2 separate regions of the Homo sapiens genome follow, and region 2 is linked to region 1. A link means that fine-mapping ties the variant in region 1 to the expression of a gene that starts in the linked region. Tissue or cell type: pancreas. Region 1 holds a variant in brackets; the other region holds the start of a gene. All regions are shown on one strand. Distances are between the middles of the regions.

Region 1 (11,144 bases):
GTTCATGTCCTTTGCCCACTTTTTGATGGGATTGTTGGTTTTTTCTTGGAAATTTGTTTAAATTCTTTGTAGATTCTGGATATTAGCCCTTTGTCAGATGCATAGATTGCAAAAATTTTCTCCCATTCTGTAGGTTTCCTGTTCACCCTGATGATAGTTTCTTTTGCTGTGCAGAAGCTCTTTAGTTTAATTAGATCCCATTTGTCAATTTTGGCTTTTGTTGCCATTGCTTTTGGTGTTTTAGTCATGAAGTCTTTGCCCATGCCTATGTCCTGAATGGTTTTGCCTAGGTTTTCTTCTAGGGTTTTTATGGTTTTGGGTCTTACCTTTAAATCTTTAATCCATCTTGAGTTAATTTTTGTATAATGTGTAAGGAAGGTGTCCAGTTTCAGTTTCTGCATATGGCTAGTCAGCTTTCCCAGCACCATTTATTAAATAAGGAATCCTTTCCCCATTGCTCGTTTTTGTCAGGTTTGTCAAAGATCAGATGGTTGTAGATGTGTGGCATTATTTCTGAGTCCTCTGTTCTGTTCCATTGGTCTATATCTCTGTTTTGGTACCAGTATCATGCTGTTTTGGTTACTGTAGCCTTGTAGTATAGTTTGAAGTCAGGTAGCATGATGCCTCCAGCTTTGCTTTTTTTGCTTAGGATTGCCTTGGCTATATGGGCTCTTTTTTGGTTACATATGAAATTTAAAGTAGTTTTTTCAAATTCTGTGAAGAAAGTCAATGGTAGCTTGATGGGTATAGCATTGAATCTATAAATTACTTTGGGCAGTATGGCCATTTTCACGATATTGATTTTTCCTATCCATGATCATGGAATGTTTTTCCATTTGTGTGACCAGTGGTTTGTAGTTCTCTTTGAAGTGGTCCCTCACATCCCTTGTAAGTTGTATTCCTAGGTATTTTATTCTCTTTGTAGCATTTGTGAAGGGGAGTTCACTCATGATTTGGCTCTCTGTTTGTCTATTATTGCTATGTAGGAATGCTTGTGATTTTTGCACATTGATTTTGTATCCTGAGATTTTGCTGAAGTTGCTTATCAGCTTAGGGAGATTTGGGGCTGAGAATATGGGGTTTTCTAAATATACAATCATGTCATCTGCAAACATAGACCATTTGACTCTCTCTCTTCCTATTCGAATACCTTTATTTCTTTCTCTTGCCTGATTGCCCTGGACAGAATTTCCAACACTATGTTGAACAGGAGTGGTAAGAGAGGGCATCCTTGTCTTGTGCTGGTTTCCAAAGGGAATGCTTCCAGCTTTTTCCATTCAGTATGATATTGGTTGTGGGTTTGTAATAAATGGCTCTTATTATTTCGAGATACTTTCCATCAATACCTAGTTTATTGAGAGTTTTTAGCATGAAGGGTGTTGAATTTTATCAAAGGCCTTTTCTGCATCTATTGAGGTAATCATATGGTTTTTGTCATGGTGTCTGTTTATGTGATGAATTACGTTTATTGATTTGTGTATGTTGAACCAGCCTTGCATCCCAGGGATGAAGCTGACTCGATGGTGGTGGACAAGCTTTTTGATGTGCTGTAAAGCAGCATTTCTTTGCCACCTGGGCAGACCATCTGCTTAATCAAGTACTTGGTTTCAGAAACCACCAAATGGAGTGGAGAAAAAGAAAAGGGATCCCCTATCCCCAACTCCAGCCATCTAGATTAAGAAAAGCCAGCTGACTGGACAGTAGCACAGCCCAGTCACCTCATGGACAAATTTCCTAGGAAAGAACCTCTCCCATCTATTCTACTTATCACTCTCCTTTGAGGTTCCGGCCACAGGTGAGTTTCTGGAAAATGTCATCAGAATCAGAAAATGTTAGCGCCAAAGAAAACCTAAAGAATAGGTACCTTTTCCTTTGTTTTAAGATGTGTCCCAATATATTTTTCTGTACTATCCAATTTGTTCCTCACAAAAATCTTGTGGAATAAGTATAGAAAGAATAGTGTTCCTGATTTCACAGTGAGGAAGCTGGAGATCAGTTGAAGGTGAAGGAACAGCTCCCCACTAGGACTGAACCAGAGCTAGTCTTCTGACCTGCAGGGTCATAGCCCAGCAAGCCACACTTTAGCTATCCCTGACAGCCCCAATTAGGCCAAAAGCACGTCCCACCCACTTCAATGCTCCCATGGCACGTATTCCAGTGTTAGGAGCATGTTATTTATGTGATTATTTGTTTAGTGTGTCACCCTAGAACATAGGGATTCTAACCTCAGATACTCAATCTTAAACAAAATCCTTATGACTCTAATGTCAGAAATCCTATCTTTAGGAACAACAGGGAAGCAAATGGTCAGGATCTAGTGACCTTTAGTTACAAGGAAGTAGGTCAAAGTGTGGGTTAAGACTACTTTCAGTGTCTACCCTGCATGGATGGGGGAGAAATGAACAGGCCAACATGCTGCACGTTTCTCCTAAACATAGCTCCTCCTGTGTCTGTTTTCAGATCTTCGCCTGCTGCTGGAAATGGCCCTCTCAGTGGACTCATCGTGGCATCGGTGGCAGTGGAGAGTCAGAGATGGCTTCCCCCATTGTCCATCGGAAACCACACCGCTGCTCTCTCCAGAGAAAGGGAGACAGAGCTACAACTTGACACAGCAGCGGGTCGTGTTCCCCAACAACAGCATATTCCATCAAGATTGGGAAGAGGTCTCCAGGAGATACCCTGGCAACAGAACCTGCACAACCAAATACACCCTCTTCACCTTCCTGCCCCGGAATCTCTTTGAGCAATTTCATAGGTAGAGATCCACTTGTCTGAACAATACTCTTTTTAGAGAAAGAGTCTCATTCTGTTCCCCAGGCTGGAGTATAGTCGTGCAATCTCGGCTCACTGCAACCTTCACCTCCTGGGTTCAAGGGAATCTCCCACCTCAGCCTCCCAAATAGCTGGGACCACAGGCGTGCACCACCATGCCCGGCAAATTTTTGTACTTTTATGTAGATATGGGGTTTTGCCACGTTGCCCAAGCTGGTCTCTAACTCCTGGGCTCCAGTGATCCGCCTGCCTCAACCTCCCAAAGAGATGGGATTACAGGAGTGAGCCACCACACCCGGCCACCAATACATATTTTAAACAAGTATTTACCACTTAGATAAACTCAGAGATGCTACCCTCTGGGGGCCACCTTTCCTTTAATATCCAAATGCATTTGTCTTAAGAAGTTTTTTCATTCATTCTTTCATTCAACAAATATTTGTCAGGTTCTATGCTGTCTCAGGCCATAAGCTGGGAGCTAGAGATACATAAAAAAAATGGAGAGGCAGAGAGATACTGTCCTTATTGAATATATTGTCTAGTAAAAGAGACAGACATTAGTTTTTTAATTATATAAATTGATATAAAGTTGTAACTACAATAGATACTTCTAAGGAGAGGTATATGGTGCTATTATAGTGAATAATAAGGAAATCTTGGCCTAGTTAAGAAAGTCAGGGAATTGAAGTACAACATGAAAGAGAGACTGCATTACCTGAGTGAAAAGGGATGGACAGAAGTCAGCAGAATGTTCCTGCAGACAGACCTGTACATGCAAAGGCACTGTGGCAAGAGAGAGCAAGATGCACGTGGAAAACTTGAAAACATCAGCAACTCTTTTGAGATAATGTATGAGATCATTTTAAATTAAAAGTTAAAATATGTGCTTATATATCACCCTCAATATTGTAATTATTATTATAAGTGACCATTTACTGAGCAACTGCTATGCTCCAGAGCCCTCTGCTGTATATCATGCAAATATTATAAATCATGTAATATTTATGGGACCCCTTTAAAGTCCATAATACTATCCCCATTTTGTGCAAGAGGAAATAAGCTCAAAAAAATCACACAACGAGTAAATAACAGGAACAGAATTTAAATCTAGATGGTTTTCCATTCCTGAGAATAATCATCTCCAGTCTCATCCATAAGCATGACAAAACAAACTTTGGGGACTTAGGGGGAAAGGGTGAGAAGGGGAGAGGAATAAAAGACTACAAATTGGGTGCAGAGTATACTGCTCGGGTGATGGATGCACCAAAATCTCACAAATCACCACTAAAGAACTTACTCATGTAACCAAACACCACCTGTTCCCCAATAATCTATGGAAATAATAAATACATCTAGATGGGTTTGGCTTCAAATCCATTACCATAATGTTTGAGGTGATACTGAAAGAGAAGGTTTAATTGATCAAGGCCAAACAGTAGGGAAGAAATGGGGGAGAAAGTACATTTTTCTTCTCCATAGTGTTTATTCACACTTCGCTTGCCCCTCCAGATGGGCTAACCTCTATTTCCTGTTCCTGGTGATTTTGAACTGGATGCCCTCCATGGAAGTCTTCCACAGAGAAATCACCATGTTACCATTGGCCATTGTCCTGTTCGTCATCATGATCAAGGATGGCATGGAGGACTTCAAGAGACACCGCTTTGATAAAGCAATAAACTGCTCCAACATTCGAATTTATGAAAGGTAAGAAAAACCATCCCTGTGTTCTCTCTTGCAAATGGGTTAGGCAAACTCATCAGCATAGCCTCAGGATGAGTCTCTTTTCTTCGATTTTATTTTCCTAAATTATTTAATTCACTGATTCTCAAGGGGGGGTGATTTCGACCCCTAGTGGGCATTTAGTAATGTCTGAAGACATTTTTGGTTGTCATACTGGGAGTAGGGGGTACTACTGACATCTAGTGGGTAAAATCCGGGGGTTCTGCTAAATAGCCTACGATACACAGGACACCACCGGGGAACAATTATTAACCAGTCAAAATGTCAATAGTGCTGAGGCTGAGAAAACTTGTTTAAGTTGTATAAGCACTCATATTATTAAGCACACAGATGCAGTATTATTAAAGGTGAGTTGAAAGCTTAAGAATTAAACTCTAGGATGGCTGGATTATCTTGGGAGACTAAGTTCAGGAGAAACTCTTTGGAGGATGTCAGGCAGTGTCTCCCAAACCAAGAAAATGTCTGCCATTTTAAAGCCTCAGTTGCTTGGGTTGAAAATTCTTGCTTTTAGAACCAGGTAGGTTTTAGGACCCAGAGTTGGTACACCTGTTCTTGG[C/A]TGCCCAGGGTGGAAAAGGAAGACACCTGTAGGTGACGTCTACATTCCAACAGGTGGAGTCTCAAACAAGTAGAAGGAAGTGGCCTGGTGGATACACACCTGTTCTCTGCAGGCTCTTTCCTTGTCATGTTTCTCCCCTGGGGTTTGCAGCCTGGCTTTTCATTTTTAGTATCCTTCTGAAAGAAGAGAGAAAAATTTTCAGCAAAGAAGGCAAGTAAAAGATGAAAATTAAATTATGAGAATTAAAAAGACAACATTGAGCAGAGATGAAAAAGGAAGGGAGGAAAAGGTGGAAAAGAAAAGAAGACAAGAAGCGAGTAGTGGTCTCTAACTTGCTCTTTGAAGGATGGTCTCACAAAGAGAACCCCAACAGACATCATCGTGGGAATCAAATCAAGACCAGCAAGTACACCGTGTTGTCCTTCGTCCCCAAAAACATTTTTGAGCAGCTACACCGGTTTGCCAATCTCTATTTTGTGGGCATTGCGGTTCTGAATTTTATCCCTGTGGTCAATGCTTTCCAGCCTGAGGTGAGCATGATACCAATCTGTGTTATCCTGGCAGTCACTGCCATCAAGGACGCTTGGGAAGACCTCCGGAGGTACAAATCGGATAAAGTCATCAATAACCGAGAGTGCCTCATCTACAGCAGGTAAAGCAAAAAACTCTGGGGAAGTCTTGGGCCCAGCCTGATCTTTTTGTGGCTGCTATCACTGCAGTTACTGTTTGTAGAAGGGATGGAGTAGGGAGATATCATTATTTTATTTCAGGGAAGCTGTTCAGTTCTCTACAGTGAGCTTTATAGTCTACAATCCAGAAAAAAGGAGGATTGAGTCAGTCTTTTAAAATTAGGAGGTCTTTATCATGTAGCATTTTCTTCACTATTTCAAATGTGTCTAACATTTAACAGTTTTGCATATATTCTCATCTCCTCTTAACCCAGTGTGGCCATGAGCACATTTAAGGCTGGTTGAGGACACTGGGAGGGAAGAGGCATCACTGTATTTGGGGGAGCAATGGAGTATTGTGTTAGGAGAAGCACAACAGGAGACACACTGCCTGAGTTGAACAGCCTCCAGTACTTACTAACTGCCTGACTTTAGACAAGCAATATAACCTCTGAAATTCATTTTGTAATTCCTAAAATTTGAACAATTCCTGAGGTGGTTGTGAGAGTTGCAGGAGATAATTCTTAGAAAATACTTAGCACAGTGTATGACATACAACAAATGCTCAGTAAATGCAAGCTGAAATTGCATTATTTTTAGAATGTCAAACCCAACGTTTCCTTCATCACTAACTCTGTTTTTGGGAGTTCTCCCTGATGTTGTCTTAACCAAAGCAAAGACTGCACACCACCTGTCCTGAAGCTGAGAAACCTTGTTTTAACTTGTGTAAGTGCTCATATTATTAAGCACAGAGATGCAATATTTTTTAGGGTGAGTTGAAATCTGAAGAATTAAACTCTAGGATGACTGGACTATCTGATGTCATTAGACATTTATTTAATGTCATTTTATACATGTCATTGTTCTACAAAGGTTTCATTGAGCAAATGACTAAACTAGGTTGTCAGGATAGGACATGCTCTCACTTGGCAAGGAAAGAAGACAGAGTTAGAGTGTGTCTCAACTTTGTGATAACCCACATAGTCCTAAAAGAAGCAAGGGAGTTGAGTCTGGGCTCACAGAGAGACTAGAGGGACAAAGCACCTTCAGAGCTAGCAGTTGGCAGCCTAAGATGATGGAGTCTCTAGCAGGTAAGAGCTTGACTTCTTGCTGAAGAAGGAAAACATCCATGTCTCACAAGCAGCACCCTAGGCCATCTCATTCCTTTTGACTCTCCAGCCCAGTTCAGCAGACATTCCGCACTGGCTCTGGTCCTTGTTAGAATGAAAGAGGCTTGCTTCGAGGTATGTACTCCAGCCATTTAGGCACTGCTTACTTCTAAGGAGGGGTTCTCTTCTCCAGGGGAGTGAAAGGTGGCCAGCTTAGAGCTGGCTGCTGAAAGGATTTATGAGTCAAACTCCACTTGGAAAATTGTAGCCAGGGGAAACCTCCAAGATGAGTATCTAATACAATGACTTTAGATGGTATTTACCAATATCATCCAAGAACCCCTGCAAGAAACTCCATGTTCATCCCTCAGCAGCAAATGAGCTTCTTGTCTCTTTGCTTGGAGGGACACAGTTGCACGTTTAGAAAAATTAATCTGAAGGATAATTTTTTTTTCCAGCTAGATCCAATTGTCTTGAATGTTATGAGCACACTGGACAGCCAGAGTTAACATTTAGTCGTTCCTCGCCTTTGAATATGAAAATTATAAAGAGAGGATGAAATCACTGCTGGGGTGTGATGCCTTCCTTTGAAAAAGCGGTGTTTGAGAAAGCATTGTTTTTCTTTTTTTTCTTTTCTTCTTCTTCTTTTTTTTTTTTTTTTTTTTTTTTGGGGGACAGAGTCTTGGTCTGTCGCCCAGGCTGGAGTGCAGTGGCGCCATCACAGCTCACTGCAAGCTCCACCTCCCGGGTTCATGCCATTCTCCTGCCTCAGCCTCCCGAGTAGCTGGGACTACAGGTGCCCGCCATCACGCCTGGCTAATTTTTTGTATTTTTAGTAGAGACGGGGTTTCACCATGTTAGCCAGGATGGTCTCAATCTCCTGACTTCGTGATCCGCCCGCCTCGGCCTCCCAAAGTGCTGGGATTACAGGCGTGAGCCACCGCGCCCGGCCGAGAAAGCATCGTTTTTCTTTTGGCACCAATCCACCGTCACTTTTTGTTTTCCACCTTACTGTCTTGTTTTTTTTCCATGGAATATACACAGTGGCAAGCCAGGAAGCTGGTGCCTCAGGGAGGAATGCACGTGGGCTGCAGTGAGCCTGGTCCTGTTCTCCTCGCTCTGCCAGAATATCGCAGAATCATGGCCTGGTTCTTGGGAATAATCTCAGTGTGGATTAGACCACAGACTCATCTGTGCTGGGAGCTGGCAGGACCTAGGCCAGGCTGCTGTTGTTGTTTCCAAAATAGCTTCCAGGGAACATCGGAAAACCAAGATGATAACAATCTAGAAAAAAGAAACATTAGTCCACCAGCTCACTGGCAGGGAGGAGCATGGAGTTTTCATAGCAGTATTTCCCAAAGTGTATTCAGTGGAATAACAGTGACAAAGAAATAGTCTCCGAAAAAATACGTGCATGGCCAAATTATATATGCTGGCCCTCCTCCAATGGACCCATAGCCCATGAAGGACTAAGAAAAGACACAGCAAAGAAACCTGTTCATCTTTGATTAACTCAGTGTTGCTTTACATTTACTGGGCTTTGGAAATATTTTTTAATATCTAAGTTTGGGAATTTTTACTTTTTCAAGTATACAAAAATAATTGGCTACAGGGACCAGATAGGTAATTAAATGGACTGAATAGTTTATAAAAAGCAGTATTACTCATGGACTGATAAATGGCCAATGACAGTTGGCATCAGTGTTAGGAGGCAATAGGGAATGGTGGTGACTATGGCAAAGTGGGGAGGCCATGCATTTATCCTAGGAGGCAGAGCTGGTCACTTAGCTTCTGCTAATTGTTATTATGTAGAAGTACAGGCCTAGTGTTGTTGCCAGATTGTCTGAGCTTTATTAGGGCAGCTAAAAATTAATATTTTTATTTGAAATAACCTGACTTTTAACTGATTTTATATTATTTTGTAACTGATGTAATTTTTTCAAACACTTCAGACCTATTTTTTTGAAACCTAAAGTTCTATTTTGCTTATGAGCCCAAAAACTTGCAAACTTTGCTTCAAAATATTCTAGAAATCTGGAGTCTCTGCAAAAGAATAATAAGTTTCTTTTTTTGTTGATGCTTTTTTGAGGTGGGCAGTGGGGGCAGGGGTCTTGGTACGTTGCCCAGGCTGGTCTAGAACTTGGCTTGAGCTGTCCTCTTCAAACTCCCAAGTAGGTGGGATTGCAGGCATGCCATCACTTCTGGCCCTAGGTTCTTCTTTTGAAGTTCATCCTCAAGGGACAGAGAGAGGGTATGACCTTGAGGTAAGAATGCAGGCCTGGGAGGCAGAGGCCTGTAGTCTAGGCCCAGATCTCAGACTAACTATTAATAGCTTAGGAAAGTCATTTAAACATATAGACCTCAGTTTCCACTTTTGTGAAATTTGGGAGTCAGACTAGATCTTGTCCTGTGAGATGGACTGAGGAAGAACAGAACCCATAGCCAAATAAATTTACACATTAATAGAATAAAGGTTCTAGGATGACCCTCAGTAAGTAGCCTATCAGCTTTGTTTAACCCAGCTGTCAGTTGAGATGTTCTTTGCCACAAGTAGGAGAAACTTCCATTTTAACAGGTTTAAACAACGAAGAGACTTCCTTGGCTTAAGTCATTACAAGTGTCCTGAGGTAGGAGGGTGATCAGCATGGTTCAATCAGCGTCCTAGATCCAGCTCTCACCAATCCTTTTCATTCAGCCCTCCTCAGTGTCATCTTAACTCTCAGGGAGACTTCTCTCATGGCAACGAAATGGCTGCAGCAGCTCCAGCCCTCACATCTACATGTGATCATGTATGAAAAGAGAAAGAAAGACACTTCTGGTAGCCATCTTGGAAGGTCAAGGAAGCTTACTACTCCCTAGAGCCTCCTCACATCTCAGTGGCCTCACTTGTTCATCCCTAAACCAATCCCTAGGGGCAAGAGATGGGATTGTACTAACTAGGTTATACCTGAGCCACAGTCCCCACCCACAGAGCCCAGCATGAAGTCAGCTTCCCTGAAAGCCTATGGGCCATTCCAGGAAGATGTAAAAGCCAAAGTTTTTTTAAAAATAAGATAGTTTCCAGCAGAATGAGGAACAGATGTTGGAGAAGCCACCTCAATGTCCTCAACACTATCACTTTAAAATATTTTTGAGACTTGACTCTTTGTAAATTGCTTTCCACGTATTAGCAGGAATATACACATCTTGGGACATTCTATACTATATGTCCCTAAAGTTTTTCCACCTCTGAAGTGGATTGATTCTATGAAAGACCCCAACAGAGGAAGCTAAGACATGCTATTAAATAGATAAGTGTTAGTTATTATCTTAACTGATGGATGCTAAAAGACATATCCTTTTGCCATATCAAGGACACATGACAGATGTCAGGAAAAGAATACAAGATTTAAGAGGACAATTTTTTTTTTTCTGGGAAGCAACATAAGAAATTACATCTCATGCCCTAGCCCTATCCATTTTATTTATTTCACCTCAAATTTACACATTTGAGCAACTGATGCTTTTTTTTTTCATTTTTGTGCAATTGAATACTAGAGCCCTTGGAATTTTGCTCATGACCTAAGCCCATGCATCATCCACCCTAGACTTGTTTATACTGTGAGGAAATGTCTTTTTACAAACAGCAGAAGCCTTGTTGACAGAATTACAATCCCGTTAGAGCATTTTCTTTTAATATAGCAACCGTGTTTGTGGTCTAAAGGTGACCCATTAATCAGATTTATGGAATGACTTCGAGGAGAGATTAGCTTCAGAATTGTATTAGTTTAGCTTCTCCCAGGGCTCAGTTTAATGAATCTAGAAACCATACCAGCCACAGATTTGTATTTTTCCATCCAGCTTAGTAAATTTTTATTTGTATTCAGAAAACATGCAGTACAGAGCAGGGAATGGGAACTGAGGGAATCCAGGGTGGTTCCTTATTGTAATGAAACCTAAGCCCTCCACAGTTTCAGCAGCTGGTCACTCACTTATTCATCTATTCAGCAAATTTTAATTCAAGACTTAGTGTGTGCATTGCCATGGCAAACCTTATGTGCCCTCAAAGGACTCTCAGTCTAGGGGTCACGAGGAACTTACAAATAGCTACAATGTCCCACGTGCTTCGGTAGCCTACCTGCAAAGGGACACAGAAGTGCAGAGGATGTGGTGACCCACCCACCTGCAGAAACGTCAAGGCCAAGGGAAGCTTTCAGTAAAAGAAGTAAAATTTCAGGAGAGCCCTGAAGGAGGAGCAACATTTAGCCAGGCAGAGGGAACATATTTCAGCTCACAGCCTGTTCCTGTGTCAATGAAATG
Region 2 (11,144 bases), 170 kb before region 1:
CCAAGAGAGAAATTTATATCACTAAATGCCTATGCTAGAAAAGAGAAAATTTTCTCTAATAATCTAAGCTTCCATCTCAGAAATATAGAAAAAGAAGATAAAAATATCCCAAAGCAAACACAAGGAAATAAATTAAAAAACAGAAATCCCTAAAATTGAAAACAAGAAAATCAACAAAGCAAAGAGCTGGTTCTTTTAAAAGATCAACAAATAGAATTAATAGACCTCCAGCAAGACTGACAAGAGAATAGACAAAAATTACCGATATCAAAAATGAAATGGATATCACCACTGACACAGCAGAATCAAGGGATAATAAGAAAATAATATAGACAACTCTAGACAAAATGGACCAATTCCTTAAAAAAAAAAATACAAACTACCAAAACTCACTGAATGCAAAATAGATACTTCCAATAGCTCTATATCTGTTAAGGAAACTGAATTTGTTATTTTAAAACTTCCAAAAAAGACATTTCCAGACCCAGATGATTTCACTGGGGAATCCTACAATTTGTTTAAAGAAAAATTAATTCAAATTCTGTAAATATTTTCCAGAAGATAAAGTAGAATAGGTTATATCTCAAATTGTTTTATGAAGCTGGTATTACCCTGATATCAAAACCAGGAAAAACAGTATAAAAAATTATAGACCCAAAGCCTTCATGAATATAAATGCAAAAGTTATTAACAAAATATTAGAAAACAAAATTCATCAATTAAAAAATTATACATGATGGCCAAATGGAGTCTATTTCAGGTATGCAAAGCTAGGTCAAGATCTGAAAATCAATTAATGTAATAGACCACATTAACTAGCTAAAGCAGAAAAATTACATGATCATATCAATTAATGCATTAATTAAATTCAAATGGAATTAATGCAGGAAAAAACTAATTCAAAATCCATTCACGATAAAAAATATCTCAGTAAAATAGAAATACAAGAGAACTCCCTCAACTCAAATCATCTACATACAAATCTACATACAAATCATCTACATACAACTCAAATCATCTACATACAATATACAGCTAACATTATACTTATTAGTGACAGACTTAATATTTTCCCCCTGAGACTGAGAACAAGACAATGATGTTCACTCTCATCACTTTTATTCAACATAGCCTTAAAAGTTTCAGTGAGTGCAATAAGGCAAGAAAATAAAATAATAGGCATACATATTAGAAAGGAAGAAATAATACCGTTTCTATTTGCAGGTGACATGATTGTCTTTGTAGAAAATCCAAGGAATCTACAATATACTCCTAGAACTAATGAGCAAGTCACCAAAATTGCAGAATACAAGATAAACATACAGAAATTTATTCTATTTTGGTATACCAGCCAGAACATATGTGCAGCAAGCAAAATGTGTACAGGACTCATATGCTAAAAACTACACGATGTTGATAACATAAATGAAAGAGGACCTACATAGATGAAGAGACACACTATGTCCATTGATTGGACTATTCAAATAGTAAAGATGTCCATTTTTCCCAAATTAGTATATGAATTTAATACAATCACTATCAAAATCCAAAAAGTTTTTTCTAGGTACAGACAAGATTATTATACAATTTATATGAAAAAGCATGAAACCAAGAATAGTTAAAACAATTTTGAAAAAAAATAAAGTGGAAGGAATCTATCTACCTGATTTTAAGATTTATATGATTATAGTCATCAAGACTGGTACTGGCAGGGGTATAAACAATGGAGAAGAATCCAGAATCCAGAAATAGATCCACACAAATATGCAACTAATTTTTTTTTTTACAAAGTTACAAGAACAATTCAATGGAGGAAGGACAGTCATAAAACAAGTGGTTCTAGTACAATTGAAAATCCAAATAAACACACAAGGAAACCTTGATCTTAACATTACAGTTTACACAAAATTTAACTCAAAATGGATCATAGACTTAAATGTAATTCATAAAATTATAAAATTTTTAGAGAAATAGGATAAATATTTAAGATTTAGAAGTATGCAAAGAGTGAAAAGGAAAATTGATTCAATATTGCTTTAAAAATTGATGTAAATAAACCTTTTGATCTGTGTAATACCCTGTGAAGGGGATAAAAAGATAAGTTATGGATTGAAAGAAAACATTTCCCAACCACATATCCGACAAAGGTATAGTATATAAAGAACACTCAAAACTAAAAAAAAAACAAACAAAAATTAATTAAAACATAAGCAAAAGACATTAAGAAATATTTCACCAAACAAAATATATAACTGAGAAATAAGCACATAAAAAGATACTCAACATCATTATCCATTAGGAAAATGCAAATTAAAACCAAAATGAGATATTGCTATACACCTATTGAAATAACTAAAGAGTAGTGACAACACCAAATGCTGGTGAGGATGCGGAGAAACTAGGGCCCTCACACATTTCTGGTAAGAAAGTAAAATGGTATAGTCACTCTGGAAGAATATCGCAGTTTCTTAAAATACTAAACGTGCAAATACATCTAGGATTAAAATACTAAACAAGCATTTATTAAAATACTAAACATACCATACAATCCAGGAATTAAACTTCTGTCTGTGCATTTATTCTAGAAAAATACTTCTATTCACACAAAACCTGTGCACAAATGTTTATAGCAACTTTATAACAGAGCTGGAAATAACTCAGATGTCCTTCAAAGGTGAATGGTTAAACAATCTGTAGTTTGAGTCCCAGATACTTCCTAGTTATGTGAAAGCACAGTTATTTTATTCCTTTTCCTACATTTTCTCTCTCGTAGAATAAGAATAATTGCGTCAATCTATTAAAGTTTTTGAGGGAATTAAATGAGTCAAAGTATGTAGAGCACTTAACATGGTGCTGGCACAAAGTACTCAGTAAAAATTAGCACCAATAGGGAGTGTAAATTAGTTCAACCATTGTAGAAGACAGTGCGGAGATTCTTCAAGGATCTAGAACCATAAATACAATTTGACCCAGCAATCCCATTACTGGGTATATACCCTATAAGTCATTCTACTATAAAGACACATGCACAGGTATGTTTATTACAGCACTGTTCACAATAGCAAAGACTTGGAACCAACCTAAATGCCCATCAATGATAGACTGGATAAAGAAAATGTAGCACATACACACCATGGAATACTATGCAGCCATAAAAAAGGATGAGTTCATGTCCTTTGCAGGGACATGGATGAAGCTGGAAGCCATCATTTTTAGCAAACTAACACAGGAACAGAAAACCAAACACCACATGTTCTCATAAGTGGGAGTTGAACAATGAGAACACATGGACACAGGGAAGAAACATCACACACTGGGGCCTGTCAGGGGTTGGGGGGCTAGGGGAAGGGATAGCATTAGGAGAAATGCCAAATGTAGGTGACGGGTTGATGGGTGCAGCAAACCACCATGGCACGTGTATACCTATGTAACCTGCATGTTCTGCATGTGTATCCCAGAACTTTAAAGTATAATAAAAAATAAAAATTACCACTAATAACACTTGCACAGCTTGTAGAAGATAGTCTTAAGATTATGAAATCCATCCTGGTTGTGTGGTACTGGTGTCGGGGATGGGAGCAAAAGCCTCTGTCTACCATTGCTTCTTTAATTGACTAGTTTGGGCAGCAAGAATACAAAAGCTAGACATGACACACTGTGTAAAAATCAGGAATGAAAAGCATGATGTGGTCAATAAGAAATGCAAATACATACAAAAATGCTAAATTGCCTTAGTGTAGAAAGATTGCCTGCTGGAAATAGGAACTATAAGTAAAACTCTGTGAGTGTGATTTTTAAAATATGATTTATTACAAAATTCCAGCAGCCAAACAAAAGAAAGATAGTCCCTCTAATAAAAACTGAACATAGCATTTCTTATCTATTATTTGTTTATTAGGGTTCTAATTAGCCAGACAGTGTCACTTAATTTCAACACATTTTATAAATAATTTGCCATATGTCTGTTAGTATTTACGATTTCCAGGCAGTTTGGAAAATGAACATATTTGAGGACTCTCTATTCATTGGTTAGCATGAAAACCCAAGGGATGCTACAGACACATTTGTTCCTAAATTGCATGTGCCTCTCTCTTTACCAGGAAAGTGATAATGGGAAAGAGCTGGTCTTAGGAGAAAGACCAGTGATGGAAAATATACTAGTCTTAGGAGAAAGACAATGTGGTTTGAGGTCCCATGTTCACCACCAAATTCCTGTTTGGCTTTGAGCAATTGTATTCACTTCTCTGAGCTTCAGCATTCTCCTCCATGGCACAAGGGGGCTTCACTAAATAACCTCCAGTTACCCACTAGTGCAATATTCTGCAATTTAACCGTATCTGTGATTCTAGACCACACTCGTCCCTAGAAGCCAGAGCACTCTGAGTGAAGGGAAGTAAAGGAACAGGGACTTAAGCATTCTTCTCTTTAGCAGATGGAGAATTTTGAAATGCCAACTCGCTCTTTTAAAAATTCTAGACTGTCTAAAGCATAGGCAAATTTCATGTTCTTAAAAATTCCTAGCTTGTGTCTTACACACACAGCGATGCAGATTTTAGATGGTGTGGGTGTTTCTTCTCTTGTAAAATGTTTCCTATGTCCATGTTTCTTCTTGGTATTCTGATAAGATCTGTAGGTACATACAAAGTTCACAATTACTCTACCAACCAACCAAAATCTTATGTAAAGATTTTCATGAAGTTAGTATGTTCACTTCTTTCCAACACCTTTTATTCCTAAGTTTGGTAATATTTCTTTTTTTTACTACCCTTAAAATCAACTTACTGCTCATTCTACCTTCTCTTTTATTTATGGACCCATCAATAATTATCCATCAATACAGCAACTTGCTCATGACATTTATGCCAATTAGTTGAGTTGTAGGTAACTTAATAAAAGGATTATACATGAAAATCTCATTTTAGGGTATGAATCGAAGCTATCAATAAGCCCATTACTAATTCTGATTTTCTGTAAGTTTGCACCATTCACATAATCTGCCACTATAATATATTGGTCCCACTTTCCTTATTTTGTATAATCAAACAGTAATCAATAAAAACTATGACTACTGCAAAATGAGACTTCTGAAGCTTTGAGGGCAAATTCATCATCAGCATGCATATAAAAGTCACTGTAGAGAGTCTTTTCTTTCTTAAGTGCCCTTGAAACCCAGCAGCTGAATCATATTTCAGGCCCCCCAAAGAGAACTGCAAGGTTATAATTGTCTCACACTTAATTACATGCATTACCAAAGGTAGATGGACAAAGTCATTTTGTACCATGCGTAGAGAATAAAAATCACCATGAATTTTGATATTGCTGGCTCATTGATTCACAGGAAGTAGAAATTTATGCAAGAACCATGTCTAACAATGTAAATGTTCAGCCAAGTCGAAGAACACTGCCTTCACTGTTCTGGGACTCGGCCTCACATTCACAGACTTGCTATTCTTCTCTTTCACTCTTGGGCCTAGCGAGGCAGCTTATTTTTCCTTTTTCTTTCATTGGTCACAGTTATTTCTTTTCAGTGTGTCATCTTCTCTAAGTTTCTGAGGGAGTGTTAGCTTGAGGCCTTGCCTTGACATAATCAGATATAATCAGAAAAATGAAAAATTCCATAGGAAAGAGAACTATTTTAGCCAAGGTGTGCGAGAGAAATACCGCCACTTTCAAGCACTGTTTTCTTCTACTGGAGTCTGCTCAATAGGGACGTCAGCTTTGCTGGGGTAAGTAAAAGCATCCTGGCCTTAACCTATATAATGGGGGAGTAATTGCCTCTTAGAATCATCAAGTCTAAGTTCTGAATTAGGCCCAGGATATGACTACTTTTCTTTACACTGCATTTGAAATTTCATTTGGCTTTCTGGGTGCGAGATCCACATTTCTTTTCTAACAGAATGTTTTATTTTTCGTCAATTGATTTCATTATGATAAGCTGATGGCAAATGCTACTTCCTCACTCAACAGGGCTTGCAGTCTGAATGTGCCTGAATACATTTTATGATAAATAATATATCCTGCTATCCTGCATTCATCCAGTGCAGCCTGAGGAAGCAGATGGAGTTACAGCCTTCTTCTCAAAGCAGAAAGAAACTATAGCTTTGAGGAAGAGAATGAGATCATTACATGGCTTCCCAATTTCATCTTGATAAACTCTGAAGCTGCCATATTGCAGTAGTTTTCAACTATAGGTGGGAAGCTTGACTTTCCTTTGAGTTCAAAGGAGAAAACTGTTGCTTAAAGAAAAATGTGTTTTTTCCCTAAGTATGAGTTACTCCTTCCAGAAAAAAAATAAAAAAGCCCCATGCATGCAGGTCTGTGATGAATACATTTAGGACAGTCCTGTGGCCTGCTATTAAGGCTGGAGTGACACTATCCCTAACCCTAAGGTGAAAAGTAATGTTAAAAATAAAAATTATACTGAGCTGCTAGTTATTTTGCCTACAGGAGTGCATGCCTGTGTCTGGTGGAACTTGGTTTTTCTCTGAATTTGCCAGGCAATTTTCTCTGAATTTGCCAGGTAGGCAGAGGAGAATTTGAAAACTGTAGAGAGGAGCTTGACCTCCCAAAGCCAATCTGGCACTCTGCTACTTCCTTCTTCCACAGTTTCTTCTCTGTTTCCAGATCTTGCAAATGTACAGTCAAGACTGCTTGGAGTATTATTCCATTAACAGACATACAGTTACATTAAGCCATTAATCAGGCAGATCACAGATGTTGTTTTCTGTCTAGATGTTACTATAATTACTCTTAATAACACCCACTGAGTTTGTCATTTCATCCATTGATGACTTTTTAAAAAATTCTTGGAAAATTCATTTCTTACAGCCTAATTATATGGATTTAAGGGTTCAGGATCTCTCCTCAGGTTTTCATCATGTATTTTTTAAAGAGTATAGCAGTATAACATCACATATGGGTGGATTAATAGGCTCTTGAGAAACTGAAGGTTGAAACCCACATGCTGACTTTTTACAGTTAAATCATACTCCTCTCGTGCTAAACGATGAGCCTTATCTTTTGAAGCATGTGATACTGATAAGTCCAGTGAAGGAGGCTGCCTTTCAAAGGAACGGAGCTCTGAGGAATGGAATGGAACTTAGTCTAGCTGCCTAGTTTACAGATGATAAAACTAGGACCTAGAGAAATGAAGTCTGAATTACTGAGAGAAAAGGACACCAGAGTCCAAGGCTCAGAGCTCTCAATCCAGTGTTGCTTCTTCTTGTTTATTTTGTTTTGTTTTGAGATGGAGTCTTGCTCTGTCACCCAGGCTGGCGTGCAGTGGCGCAATCTCAGCTCAATGCAACCTCTGCCTCCTGGATTCAAGCAATTCTCCCATCTCAGCCTCCCAAGTAGCTAGGATTACAGGCATGCACCACCATGCCTGGCTAATTTTTGTTTTGTTTTTTGTTTTTTGTTTTTTAGTAGAGACGGAGTTTCACCATGTTGGCCAGGCTGGTCTCGAACTCCTGACCTCAGGTGATCCGCCCACAGCCTCCCAAAGTGCTGGGATTACAAGCGTAAGCACCGCACCTGGCCCAGTGTTGCTTCTACTACCACTTTCATTCTTCAAACAGCTTCTGCCATGTCAGAAGGGAATGAAAATTTCTTTTGTGACTCAAAAGTAAACTAAAACTCGTTGGATTCCTGAGACTGATTCTACCCATTTACCCACTCTCCTTAAAGTAAAACTTAGCCAGGCATTCTTAAATTTTGCTTTGAACCTAGGGAGTTCTAGCTTTTCTGCTGATTAAATGTCACTGATTTCTCATTTTCTGGTGACATTGTTTTACAATTCTTTTAACTACAAAGTTTAAGTTTCTGGAGCCTTTTCTTCTTTTCATTTTTTATAAAATACCCTTTTATTAAGAGATGAAGTTGGGTAGTCAGAATAGGAGTGGGTATTGTTTAGTAGAAAAAAAACGGGCTTTGGAATAAAACTTGCATATGAATTACAGTTCTGCTTCCTATAATTGTGTAACCTTGGCAAGTTACTGCGCCTGTCAAATGCTCACATTAAAAGAGTGTGTGTGTGTGTGTGTGTGTGTAATTGCCAGTACAATTCAATAATTGGCCCACAGAAGGCACTTAATAATTGCTAGTTACTACTAAGAGAACCAGATGAGAAAGAATATTAATGGATATGGCATTTTTTGTTTATTAAGTACTGTCTTAAACGTCTGGAGAAAAGAAGGAGAATCTCATTTTCTGCTTTCGTTATTAGTGATCACTGGCTGCTGTTGCCAATGCAGGGAGCCTTGCAGATAGTTAGCAGCCTGAAAACAACTTGTATTATTTGAGAGGAGGTACTTTTGTCTCTTAGATAAAGTTTTTGCAGGTCGCTCTGGTATGGTGCAGTATCAATCTGAACTCATTAAGTTGAAGAAGTGACACAGGAACACAAGAATACATTGTTTCTTTGCCTCATCTGCTTAATTAAAAATTCCAGATCCCTCCACTCACAAGCAAGATTGATGGTGAAATCTTCACACACATGCTACCGTATGTTCTCTACCTCCTCCTCCCCAAGTACAACCTAGAGCAGTGGTTCCCAAATATGCTTCCTGGGCCGGCTGTATCAGAATTACTCGGGAACTATTAGAAGGGCAAAACCTCAGGCCCTGCCGCAGACATGCTGAGTCAGAAACTCGGGATCACTCAGAAATCTGTTTTAAATAGGCCTTCAGGTGATTCTGATGGAGTTCCAGAACCATGACCTGGAGAACATGCCCAGTTACTATATGTACTGCAGTGTTTCTCAAAGTGAAGAACAGGTACCATGATAGAACCAAAAATGATCTTAGGTAGGACAAAGATGACTTTAGGTGATACTCACGTATTATATCAAATAGCTAGATCACATAGTAAAAGTTTTCCCTCTCAACTCTCTTTCCATCATTAAGTCTCATTTTGGTATGACTAGACCTTTAATACCTCTCTACCCATTGCTAATCTCCCATTTCAACAAAGAGAGCTGGATGCAATTTTGATGTCTTTAGGTAGCAGCAGGGTCCAGCTAAAACTCAGCAATAGTTTTCTTCTCTTTATGGCATGCTATTTAAATGGTGATAAACTTTTCCTTTATAAATGTTTACATTAATTAATCAAAAAAGTTAAAATACAGTTGGCACGTGGATTAGCAAAATTATGTCAGTGATATGGCAGTGAATGTATTTAGAGAAATGCTGGTATGCTAGAAAGAACCTAGTTACATCAGTGCTTTAATTTCATTTGTGCCATTTATTAGCTGTGCTATTTTCTTAGCTGTGCTACTTTTGTAAGCCTCAATTTTCTCATCTATCAAATGGGAGTGATACCAACATCATAGAAATGGTATAAGAACTTATGAATGGAATATGCCTCCTGTAACCCTCAGAACATAGTAGGAACTTGCTACATCCTTATTCTCTCAAATCTCACTTTGAAGTCAGGTTTCTGTGTGGCCTTCTCAATAGCATTTCTGTTGGGGCTTCAGATTCTTCATTTGTAATGTGACAGTAAAGACTTGAAGATCTGAAAGGTTCCTTCCAGCTCTTAACTAATATGTATTTACACATGTGTATTGTATGTGTGTATGTTTACATATAGTGTAAATTCTGCATATAAGTATGACTTAGGCATAAATAGTTATTTTCCCCAGGCATAAACCTGGAGTGTGCAGGGATAATATTGAAAATAGATGGCTGTGTTGGAAAAATAAAAAATCAAATTGTGAGAGATGTGGGCGCTGATATACATATCAGAGCTCAAAGGTAATTTCATTGTATTTTACCATCATCTGTCAAACTTAAAGCAATACCGACACTAGAAAATAGATTTTTGCAGAGGTTTCTGAGGACAATGGTTTCCATGAGCTGGTGTAAATATATTCAGAGAGACTTGTTCCTACTTAATAACCCGCGTTTTTCCTTCTGAATTGCTGATGCATTCATTTATAGCATTTGAAAGGCAGTTTGTCCTTTGCTGTCAAGTGAACTTGACACAATAATAAGAAATTCTGAAAAATTCAATCAAATCTTGTTGCTTCTCAAAGGAATTTCTCGACTACTTATTCTGTTTAAGGAGAAAAAGAGAAGACAGTGTTTCTTTGGTCTTGTATAAAACACTAACCAAGTTTAACAGCACAGGTTCTTGTTAGCAGGTGCCACATGGAGTTTTCCCTCTCAGTAATCCAGGGGACAGTTCTAACTGAGGTTTGGGGGTTCTTTGGGAAGTAGCAGCAATACATAAGGGGTCACCGCAAGGCTGTACTGTTATAAAATCAGAAGCTGTTATCAGCTTATTTATTGCTTACAATATGCTTGTGAATCTGGAGACCTAAAAACAGAGAAATGGCGAAACTTGCTTCTCTTCCTTAGACGATAAAATAGCTTGCATTGTCTTTTACATAACTGACTATTATAGAATCCCAGAAGCTAGATACACTCAAATATTGGCAATTCTGATGAAATGCCCCAGGAACTATTAGACTTGATTTAACAGGCACTGAACTGAAAATTAGCATGTAAGACAGAGAGAATGTGCTTGCAATCATGCAGACAACAGTTCAAATTACTCTCTTTGAGCTCCAGTCTCCTTATCTATAAACTGAGGATAAAATGTTTCTACCTCACAAGATTGTCCTGAGAATTAATCGAAGAGGTAATATTGGAAGTAGCCAGAACATCTAACATTAACTGAGTACTTACTATCTGCCAGTTGCTATTTCAAGGGCTTCAACCGCATAGGATCATTTAAGCCTCAATAAATCTCTGAGATAGTTACTATTATTAGCTCCATGTTGTGGATGTAGGAACTTATACCAGAGAAAATGTAATTAACTTGCCAGCCACAATGTGGCAGGAAGAGACAGAGCCAACATGGGAACCCAAAAAGTCTGGCTGCAGATGCTCCTTCTTTAAGGCTTAAAAACACTTGACATTGTTATCAGCATTTCATATGAGTTGAACCATGTGAAATTATAAATACTTGACCATTTTTGACATAAAAATAGCAATTTTTTGTGGTGGTACCTACTAAGCGCTGGATATGTATTAGTAGTAGCTACAGTTGCTACTACTGCTAATAGCAGCAATCATAATATTGATTTTATCCCAAACCCTCACTCATTAAGGAATACAGGTGGCATTATAGAGTAAAAACTA

What was found. PIP is the estimated chance that this variant, and not a neighbour inherited with it, causes the effect.
Region 2: ATP10B starts here. The variant in region 1 is fine-mapped to the expression of ATP10B in pancreas (GTEx, PIP above 0.99). The same link has a PIP of 0.9 or more in nasal epithelium.

Annotation. Positions count from the first base shown.
Region 1 is chr5:160,679,411-160,690,554 of GRCh38, reverse strand. ATP10B (ATPase phospholipid transporting 10B (putative)) reads left to right here. Exons shown (of 26, transcript NM_025153.3): 4 at 1,612-1,795; 5 at 2,461-2,755; 6 at 4,282-4,476. The coding sequence starts at 2,481. Among named protein-coding and RNA genes, the nearest start is that of ATP10B, 170 kb to the left of the region's middle. The variant C/A (reference allele first, on the strand shown) is at 5,069.
Region 2 is chr5:160,846,523-160,857,666 of GRCh38, reverse strand. ATP10B (ATPase phospholipid transporting 10B (putative)) reads left to right here and starts at 5,456. Exons shown (of 26, transcript NM_025153.3): 1 at 5,456-5,726.